2 separate regions of the Homo sapiens genome follow, and region 2 is reported to be linked to region 1. The links are microRNA targets in miRTarBase. Many come from high-throughput screens and were not tested one by one. Region 1 holds a microRNA gene; the other region holds the end of a gene's coding sequence.

What was found. Region 1 holds the annotated microRNA hsa-miR-3139 (UAGGAGCUCAACAGAUGCCUGUU, at 3,342-3,364, shown strand). A microRNA usually pairs through its seed, bases 2 to 8, with sites in the 3' UTR of a target mRNA and lowers its output. Matches are read on the target gene's strand: a 7mer-m8 pairs with bases 2 to 8, a 7mer-A1 pairs with bases 2 to 7 and ends in A, and an 8mer does both.
Region 2: the mRNA of NOS1AP is a reported target of hsa-miR-3139. Seed matches in the 3' UTR shown: 7mer-m8 at 838-844 and 7mer-m8 at 1,872-1,878.

The regions. Positions count from the first base shown.
Region 1 is chr4:143,340,128-143,345,504 of GRCh38, forward strand. MIR3139 (microRNA 3139) reads left to right here and starts at 3,333; the gene lies at 3,333-3,408. All of the region lies in intron 1 of GAB1 (GRB2 associated binding protein 1), which reads left to right.
Region 2 is chr1:162,366,834-162,372,210 of GRCh38, forward strand. It overlaps NOS1AP (nitric oxide synthase 1 adaptor protein), which reads left to right. Exons shown (of 10, transcript NM_014697.3): 10 at 219-3,642. The coding sequence ends at 634. Among named protein-coding and RNA genes, the nearest start is that of SPATA46, 7.3 kb to the right of the region's middle. RefSeq lists an enhancer at 370-869.

The sequences.
Region 1 (5,377 bases):
AGTTTAGATGGTTTTTGCTAAAGTAGCTTTGACCATCAAAGATATAGACATGTATACGTGCATTTCCTATGCTTGTTTTTTTTATGTAGAATGTTTATTTTTCTGGATAAAGGAAACATTGTTGGCCACCCAGTAGGCAAAATGTTTGTGGATAATGATTTGTAATGAATGGATTTGCTATGAAAAGATATCTTGGATGCTTGATACTATAATTATTAAATGAGACTTCAGGGAGTTTGAGCATCATGATTCTGTTTGGAAATATTTGGCCCATGGGACTTTGACAGTTGTCTCACTGTTTACAGCATTTATAGGGTAGTCCGAACACTGATTAAGATGATCCATAAGGGCTTTTAAGTGACAAAAAAATTGTTTTAGTTTTTTTTAATTAATTTTTTTTTGAGATGGAGTCTTGCTCTGTCACCCAGACTGGAGTGCAGTGGCACTATCTCGGCTCACTGCAACCTCTGCCTCCCAGATACAAGCAGTTCTTCTGCCTCAGCCTCCCCAGTAGCTGGGATTATAGGCATCCCCCTCCACACCCAGCTAATTTTTGTATTTTCAGTAGAGATGGGATTTCGCCAGGCTGGTCTCAAACTCCTGACCTCAGGTGATCCACCCACCTCAGCCTCCCAAAGTCCTGGGATTACAGGCATGAGCCACCACGCCTGGCCTTAAATTGTTTTAGTTTTAGCTTTAAAGCCATCTCATATATGGCCCCCAATGTATTCCATTTACAGCTCCGTTTTATGTTTACTGTTTCATAGTCAACTCAAGCAGGATTGTTTTTTGTACACGCTAGTGTGTTAGTCTGATGTGTAAGCTTTTCTTGAATTTTCTAAAGAATGACACACAAAAAAATGAAAGTCAAGAGTAGTCAGCAGATTCCCCAGCTTTTCCTTCTCTTTTTAATTTTTTCTATATTCGCAAAAGGTTCTTTCTTGTATGTGTTTCATTCTCCTGGAAGTTTTTAAAATCTACTTAAAATGTAGGTGAAAATTTTAATGCTTCTTTTCAGGGTTGCTACTGTGGTGTTGCTGTTTTCATGCTGTGTTATATATTAAACAGCTGCTTTTTTACTTTGTTAAGGACCTGATGGAATCATAAACAGATTACTGTCACTAGGATTACAGAAAACAAGTAAAGTCTTGGTAGTATGCACTCAACAATGGTGCTCAGATTTTTAAAGAATTATTTAAAGAAATGATGGTGAAATTTTCATCAGAACCTGAAATTTTAGCTGAAATAAGATGCAAGTCTGTAAATAAAGTATTGTTTCAAGACAGCTGGCTACCACCATCGCTCTGGAGGAGGAGCTTCCTTGCCTGAAGCCCAAACACTAAGTTTGGGCTCCTCCATAGCCCAGCTGTCAGCATTGGGCAGGTGCACAATCTCAGCAGGAGAACCTGCTTCTGAGGCCAGAGCAAGGTGGCCTGTTAGCTGACAGCCAGCCTGGTAGCAAGGCCCCAGCCAGTTCTTAGGTAGGTAATCTGTACCCAGCGTGGGCTCTCTGTCTGCTCTGCAGCTGTCAATTAACAGGACAACTCTTGTCTGGACTTCAAAAACACACCCCTGGTTCTGGAAATGGGCCTAGAAACAGAAATAGCCTCTCCTACTGGGTGGGCACCTGACATCTGACATGGAGGAGAGGGGCGTGGGCAGGCCAAGTGTCAGCATCTCCTTGGTTCAAGGACAACCCAGGACCTGTGCTAAGCATGAAACCCCTGCTCAATAGTGTCACTACAACAAAGAGGACTGTCATGTCTAGAAGCTCTTCCTATCCTTTTTTGACAATTACCACTAGCAATCAATGGATTCTGATGTTTCTGCTTACAGTGACTGAATAAGCATAATTATTCTATTGAAGGAAATTTTTTCTTGCCATCCTCATGTTAGTAAACATAATTCAGACTCCCAATGTTTTTACCTTTTCAAGTGTAGCAAGAATGTTTTTTCTGTTAACAGAGATCATCAACTTGCAATTACATTAAGCCTTTATGATGGTTAATGATAGTTCATTTGTTGTGCCTGGGCTGAATGATAAGTGTAGAACTCTCCACGTGCAACTTGCTGAATCTCCAAATCTGATTGCTACCTTTTGAGATTCAGAATTACTGTTAGGAAGGTGCATTAGTTTGGAGGGGGTAGTTTGAGAATTCTGCTGGCTCTTTAAAATTATTTTTTTAAGAGATCATCTTGGAACAAAAAGTGGCAAGAGTTATAGTTGGATAATCTGTTTGACAAGTGACTGGTTATTTCAGTGTATTTTGCCATAACCTGCTTAAAAATGTAAGGAGTAAAACACACAGCGTTTTTTGAGAGTAAGTAAAATCCCATATTTTAGACTTAACATAAAAATATGTAGATAAGCTATTGACAATTTGCAGACTGAGAAAGTTTCAGAGGTGATAGATTCTTTTTTTTTTTTTTTTTTTTTTTTTTTGAGATGGAGTTTCGCTCTTGTCCAGGCTGGAGTACAATGGCATGATCTTGGCTCATGGCTCACTGCAACCTCCATCTCCCGGATTTAACTGATTCTCCTGCCTCAACCTCCCAAGTAGCTGGGATTACAGGCTCCTGCCACCACGCCCGGCAAATTTTTTTTTTGTATTTTTAGTAGAGATGGGGTTTTGCCATGTTGGCCAGGCTGGTCTCGAACTCCTGACCTCAGGTGATCCGCCCGCCTCAGCCTCCCAAAGTGCTGGGATTACAGGTGTGAGCCACCGTGCCCAGCCAGAGGTGATAGATTCAAAACATGTGTTAGGTACTCAGCAGTCCTAATTTTCTTACAGAGACTGACAGCCAGAAGGAGCATTGTAGTAGATGGGCTACTACTTTACTTTTGAAGAATTTTGTATTAAAATGTAATTTGATGCACCCACTGATGCTTTTAGTGGGGATGTTTTGCTATAGTGGAAGGAAACTCAGACTGAGTGTCAGGACCCGGATTCTACTTGGTTTTGCCATTACCCACCCACAGGAGCATTTGACCATTCTGATCCTCAGTTTCCTTACCTGTAAAATGGGGGAGGGAGGAGCTGTAGATCTTCAGCAGAAGCCCTGTTGCAGTTTAGCGTTCCTCTTCTCAGACATTTTCTTGGGTGGAAGGGACAAATGGGGAGCTCTTCAATAAGCTGCAACATAAATTTTTGGGGGACATAAATCTTCCTTGTGGGGAAATCTTTACTATTTATCTTAAATAGTTTAGTGACTGCTTAAGCAGTATTCTTTGGGGACTCTTGGTTTTTAACTGAAGGCAGACCTGCATGCAGGGCCTTTGGCTGCTGTGCTCCTGGGCTGGGTGCTGTGTCTTGAGCCCCTGTGCAATGCCTGGCTCAGAGTAGGAGCTCAACAGATGCCTGTTGACTGAATAATAAACAGGTATCGCAGGAGCTTTTGTTATGTGCCATGTGTGGAATGCAAGGAAGGAAAGGCCCACTCTCTGCCCTTAAGGAGTTTCTAATCTGTTTGTGAAGACAAGCTGTCAGTCATTTTATAGGAGCTATGATATATGATTAGTTGCCAAATGAAAGTTTAGAGTGAGAACAGGGGATGCAGGGGTACGAGATGCCAGGGAAGACTCCGCAAATGAATTTTACACTTTGCTTTTAGAAGAGCTGGTGTACTGCTGGCAGCAACAGCAAAATCTTAAGGGAGGGCTGGTTTTAAAGGAAGAACAAAGATTTGTGTTGAGTTTAGATGTCCTCATGAAAAAAACTGCTTCCCAGCACCCCAGTTTCATGTGAGGAGTTTGGCTGTCAGCTGTATCTTCTAGTTTGAGAAGTTTTTGTTTCTGCTAAGATCTAATGTTCCTCATGGGTTCCTGAGCACAAGTGAATTTTCTGCATCAAACTAGAAATGAACAAAACAACTTGTTTGGTCACCTGAACTTATTAAAATTCCAAGGGACATGAGTTGTTTAAGATTTCTTTATGTCTGTTTTAAGCTAAGTAATTCATTCTGGCAAGCAGTTAGTTTACAACAGAGAGGGAGCATGTTCTGGTGGGAGGGAGAATAAAAGAGCCTTTGATTCATTTGCTTCTGAGTTCCAGCAGCAGGACCAGGGCTGCCTTGGGCTAGCGTCTTATTTCGGACTTTGGAAGCCATCTTAGCCCAGCTGTGTGAGTGCCAGCTCGTGTTGGGGGGGAGAGAATAACACCAACGGATCACATGAAACCCCCTCTCCCTGTGGATGGAGGGGTTTCTCTCATTTCACATTCCTCGCATCAACATGGCGCCTAATTTCCACCAAGTTAGAGCTCCATCTGAATTTGCCATTTGAACTTGGATTGAAGTCACGATCTTTCTGTGACTCCTTTTATCTCAGTCTGCCAACTAATACAGAAAACTTATCAAGTCACAGTTCTCTTTATTCTCCCCTCTTGGGGTATAACACACATAAAATTAGCATTCTTTCTTTTTTATATTACCCCTGGCAAAAAGTGGCCCATTGTACTGTGGATTTCCATATTTATTAAATAACTAGGCTCTTCCGTTGCCAGTGGGATGGCTATAGGAGCCTCAATAAATTGTAGATGACAATTTAGGCCTGTAGAATTGCTGAGAAAAGTCATTTTTAGGAACTGGAATTTTTTGCTCATTCTAGGCTTCTATGTTTGAGCATCTTAAATAATAGAAGAATGCCCTAACTGGAAAAAAGAATCATTTCTCTTTTAAGCAATTCACTTATTCATAGGAGCGAAGTTCTCCCTAGTTTAAAAGGTCGCATTACTGAATAAAGTACACTATAACCTAAGAGCTTTTGACCTTCTCCCAGCCCGTTTTTAAAAAGAATTAAGACTATGCACTGTAATGCATGTTTGGTTGTTATCTCTGTTACATTAGCTCTTGAAGCATTCTGATTACAACTTGTAGCTGCCAAGCCCTGTCCTGCAGTATTATCTGGAACAAAAATTTTCCATGTGGTTGTTTTTAGCAGAGCTACTATATGCAAACTGCACGTGAAGGATATAAGTTATAAAGGAATAGAGCTTCTAGAAGGAGAAATGTGAGTTAACTTTTTTCTACCATTTAATCATTCTTTCCTCACCTCTTAGTGTGTGTTTCAATAATGTTTATCATCTTTCTAAACTGAGTTTTCTTTTATTTTTATATATTAGAAAGAATGCCAAATTTACCAAGTGCTTTTCTGATGGTGGTTTTCTTTTCTCCCAGCTTTTTACTTTGAATTCATACTTGGCCTAGGTAGTTCTCTTAAGTTATGTGTTCAAAAAACAATGTCCTAAGAGGAAAAAACAAATGGCCACATTGTCTCATGAATTAAAAACAACATACCAAGAGTCCAAACATTTCAATGTAAAAATATTAAGCCTTTCTTTTTTTAGGAAGACAAATATTAAACTTTGCTTTAACTATC
Region 2 (5,377 bases), not on the chromosome of region 1:
TACCACGTCCCAAAGCTCCTCCCCTCCAGCGAGGTGTGTCTGGAGCTATGTGGGGGCGGGAGGAAGGGTGAAGTGTTAAGAGACCCAAAGCCCGGAGAGGTGCTGCTAAGCTGGTCTGGGAAGGGCTTTGGCAGGGCACGGGCGGGCAGAAGGCGGGCATCCCAAATCAACAACCTTGCCTAACGCTGCCCCTCTGCTACCTCTTGTCTCCCCTGCAGTGGGCTCCCAGGACAGCTTGCTGGAGATCACCTTCCGCTCCGGAGCCCTGCCCGTGCTCTGTGACCCCACGACCCCTAAGCCAGAGGACCTGCATTCGCCGCCGCTGGGCGCGGGCTTGGCTGACTTTGCCCACCCTGCGGGCAGCCCCTTAGGTAGGCGCGACTGCTTGGTGAAGCTGGAGTGCTTTCGCTTTCTTCCGCCCGAGGACACCCCGCCCCCAGCGCAGGGCGAGGCGCTCCTGGGCGGTCTGGAGCTCATCAAGTTCCGAGAGTCAGGCATCGCCTCGGAGTACGAGTCCAACACGGACGAGAGCGAGGAGCGCGACTCGTGGTCCCAGGAGGAGCTGCCGCGCCTGCTGAATGTCCTGCAGAGGCAGGAACTGGGCGACGGCCTGGATGATGAGATCGCCGTGTAGGTGCCGAGGGCGAGGAGATGGAGGCGGCGGCGTGGCTGGAGGGGCCGTGTCTGGCTGCTGCCCGGGTAGGGGATGCCCAGTGAATGTGCACTGCCGAGGAGAATGCCAGCCAGGGCCCGGGAGAGTGTGAGGTTTCAGGAAAGTATTGAGATTCTGCTTTGGAGGGTAAAGTGGGGAAGAAATCGGATTCCCAGAGGTGAATCAGCTCCTCTCCTACTTGTGACTAGAGGGTGGTGGAGGTAAGGCCTTCCAGAGCCCATGGCTTCAGGAGAGGGTCTCTCTCCAGGACTGCCAGGCTGCTGGAGGACCTGCCCCTACCTGCTGCATCGTCAGGCTCCCACGCTTTGTCCGTGATGCCCCCCTACCCCCTCACTCTCCCCGTCTCCATGGTCCCGACCAGGAAGGGAAGCCATCGGTACCTTCTCAGGTACTTTGTTTCTGGATATCACGATGCTGCGAGTTGCCTAACCCTCCCCCTACCTTTATGAGAGGAATTCCTTCTCCAGGCCCTTGCTGAGATTGTAGAGATTGAGTGCTCTGGACCGCAAAAGCCAGGCTAGTCCTTGTAGGGTGAGCATGGAATTGGAATGTGTCACAGTGGATAAGCTTTTAGAGGAACTGAATCCAAACATTTTCTCCAGCCGGACATTGAATGTTGCTACAAAGGGAGCCTTGAAGCTTTAACATGGTTCAGGCCCTTGGTGTGAGAGCCCAGGGGGAGGACAGCTTGTCTGCTGCTCCAAATCACTTAGATCTGATTCCTGTTTTGAAAGTCCTGCCCTGCCTTCCTCCTGCCTGTAGCCCAGCCCATCTAAATGGAAGCTGGGAATTGCCCCTCACCTCCCCTGTGTCCTGTCCAGCTGAAGCTTTTGCAGCACTTTACCTCTCTGAAAGCCCCAGAGGACCAGAGCCCCCAGCCTTACCTCTCAACCTGTCCCCTCCACTGGGCAGTGGTGGTCAGTTTTTACTGCAAAAAAAAAAAAAGAAAAAAGAGAAAGAAAAAAAAGAATGAATGCAAGCTGATAGCTGAGACTGTGAGACTGTTTTTGTCCACTCTTCTGAATCACTGCCACTTGGGTCAGGGACCACAGCCATTGCCACCCTTGGCCCATCTCTCTGCGTGCGTGCCTTGAGCACACATATAAAAAGTGCCATGTGCAATTGTCTTATCTTTTATGATCTAGGCTTTGCCTAGGGATCACTACTCCTTAACGGGCTGGCTGGGGCAATGAGGAAAAGCTCCTTTGCTCCTGTAAGGCCATAAGTGGCTGTTAACAGATTTTCAAATGCCTGAAGAGATTGCTGAGACCTGCTAGAGTCATATGTTCGGGGAATTAAGTCTTTATCCTAGACAACAAGGTACAGATGCAAACTGCAGTGTTATTGGAGGGTCAATCGGCAAGGATATGATTATCCCAAAATGGAGTTCATCGACCCTAGCTTTCCTTTAGATTATATATAAATAAAAGTGCAGTCCTCTTCTAATGGCCACAGTTGGTTTTCTTGTAGCCCAGAAAGTCCAAATTAAAGGAAATAAATTCAGTTTTATGTTAGCCTTCCTTGGTGCATCAGGGTGTCAGTGGAAATAGGATCAGGTGGTGTGTGTGTGTGTGTTTTGTGTGTGTGTGTACACATGTGTTTATATATACATGTGTGAGGGAAAGTGTGTACATATATGTAGGATTGTAACCAGACGGAAAAGAACGAGGATCTCCAGGGTGTTTGAATCAGCAACAGATTTGTGTTTTCTAACATGCATTTAGTTGGAGAGGCATGGTTCTGTTTGTTTTGTTTTGATCTAATTTGCCATTGGAAATAGGTACAGTTACACAGAGAAGGAAGAACCAGGAAAGTGAGATCCATGAAACTAAATGAGCAGCTGTCAGAATCCAGTGTGGCTGAGCCTACCTAGCTTATGAAATCTAACCCAGGGTTCCCTGAGTCCAAGACCACTTAGATTATTAAGATTTTGAACGTCCAGAGGAGTGAAAAGTCTGTTTTCTGACGTAAGCCGGAGCTGAGGATAAAGCCAGAGGCCAGTGGATTAGGTGTATGGAATGTGGATGGAGAGGGCTTGTGTGGGATGTGGCCAGGGAGTGGGTGAGGAAGGCCGCTTCTAAATGGCCTGTAAAAACTTGAGATTGGATAGACGAAAGGAAATGGAGAAATTAAAGAATTGGAGAAACTAGTTATCTGTGTTGCTGACTTTGGGACCCATCCAAGACTCCTGCCCTTGGGGTGTTCCATGGTGGTTTCTTCCTGCCTGGGCGCCACCCTTTCCCCAGTTCAGGCCCTCCCTGGAGGACTAGTTTGTGTATTGGTATCCTCCCCAGTGGACCCAAACCAGCGCATACTTGGTGTGTGGAGATGGGAGACAAAGGACAGATCTAGGAGCCTTGAAGGATCACCAGCCACCGACCCTCCATCAGGGCCAACTGGGCAGGAAAGGGAACATTGCAGACCTGATTTCCCGACGATGTCACCCTGTCCTCCCTCCTTGCTTCTTGCTCTGCTAACTCAACTCTGCCTTCCTCTTTTTCATTCTTCTACTCTGCCCTATATGGAGGACAAATGGACACCAGGGGTGCTAACCTTATTGGTGCCTGCCCCAGCCTACCCCAGGTGCCAGCAGACTCTCGTGCACAGGAGGCTCCCACAGTTATGGAGCCAGGAAAGAATTTCTCTGCACTGGATGGACTGTATATTGAGATTAAAAATTATATTCCTTATATTCCTGCTTATATCAATGCTCTCTCTGTAAAACCTCTTCCTAGCCTCATTTCTCTCAACTGATCTTGTTTAGGCGTTGTATTCCTTTTATTTACTCTTTGCTTGACTGCTTCCTCCTAACCCTCTACCCACTAGCACTCTACTTCCTAAAGCTGTTGTGTCATTAACTCTGTTGGATCAACTCTCTGGGAAAAGATTCTGTTAATGTAAGTGCACTTACTCCCTGGATGTTGTCACTAGTCTAGTGGCTTTTGCTAAATAAACCTTTCTTATTTCTAGAAGCTTTTCCATTGTCTTTTCTTGCTGCTTCTATTCCACCTGCTCCTTCTCTCCCCCTCACTTCCACCCCACTTCCCAAGCCAAGTGGCATCAGCTCTGTGAGATGGTTCCCAAGGGTATGGGATTGAGGAAAGATTCACAAGTTCCCTGTAGGAGGAGAGGAAGATGGTGGCTTCATTTGCACTTTATATAGATCAGCCCTGCGGGATCAGAGGTATCAGTGGTTCTTAACTAGGCCTGATTTTTCCTCACCAGGGGACATCTGACAATGTCTAGAAATGTTTTTGGTTGTCACAAAGCTACTGGCATGTAGTGAGTGAAGCCAGGGATACTGATCAATATCCTACAATGCACAGGACAGCCCCCCACAACAAAGAATCATCCAGCCCCAAATGTCAGTAGTCCTGAGATTGGGAAACTCGTCTACACCCATTTTTGCCGACTCTGCCAATCCCAGGTTTTTTCAAACTCCAAATATCATTAGAATATGTGGGTAGTAGCAGCCAGTTGGTTTTTTTGGTTTTGGGTTTCAGGGCTTTTTGTTTTTCAGGTGTTTTTAAGGCAGGGTCTCACTCTGTCGCCCAGGCTGGAGTGCATGATCATGGCTCACTGCAGCCCTGACCTCCCTGGGCTCCATGATCCTCCCACTTCAGCCTCCTGAGTAGCAGGACTACAGGTGTGTGCCACCACACCCAGCTAATTTTTCTATTTTTTGTAGAGACGGGTTTCGCCATGTTGTCCGGGCTGGTTTCAAACTCTTGAGCTCAAGCAATTCTCCCACCTTGGCCTCCCAAAGTGCTGGGATTGCAGGCATGAGCCACCACACCTGGCCAGCATCAAGTTCTGAGTGCTTGAAAAATTACTACATCATAGATATTTGCCAATATAACTGTGTAATTGTATAAACAAGATTATTCAGCTCATGCCAGTAATCCCAGCACTTTGGGAGGCCGAGGCAGGTGGATCGCTTGTGCTCAGGAGTTTGAATCAACCTGGGCAACATGGGGAAAGACCGTTACTAAAAAAAAAAAAACATAAAAATTAGCCACGCATGGTGGTGAGTGGCTGTGGTCCAAGCTACTTGGGAGGCTGAGGTGGGAGGATGGCTTCAGCCTGGGAGGCGGAGGTTGCAGTGAGCCGAGATCATGCCACTGCACGCTCCAGCCTTGATGATAGAGCGAGACCCTGTCTCAAGGAAAAGAAAAAAAAAAAGATTATACTATTTCACGGACTTCATGACTAAATGCCTGAAATATGTAGTTGGTAGAAGTCTGAATAGGCCCATTCCAGAAATGTTCATACTGGGGACAAAACTGGCTCCTCCTCATACCTACCTCGGCGGGGATCATGGTATCACTATGACACAGCTCAGCACAGAAGTCCTGATTCATGGGAATGTAGGCTTCCCTGCAAGGAGTACAAATGAAAGGGCAGAGGAGCCTGGTAAAGGAGGGAGTGTTTGAGGAATGAGGAGCTGTGGGATCACACAGAACAGACTTTAGAAAAGCCAGGTCACTTTGGCTGGAACTTTTAGCCATTTTGCAGGCAGAGGATGTGTTAGGCCTGATGGCTTCGTCAGGCCCAGGCTAGAGAGAAAGTTGAAAAGGTTAGATCAACTGGGTTCACATGCTCTCTGTTCTTTTCTGGCTAAGTGAACTGAACTGAGTTTTGTATTCTCATCTCGAAAATGGGGATAGTATAAACCACACAAAGCTACTATGGAAAGTAAATGAG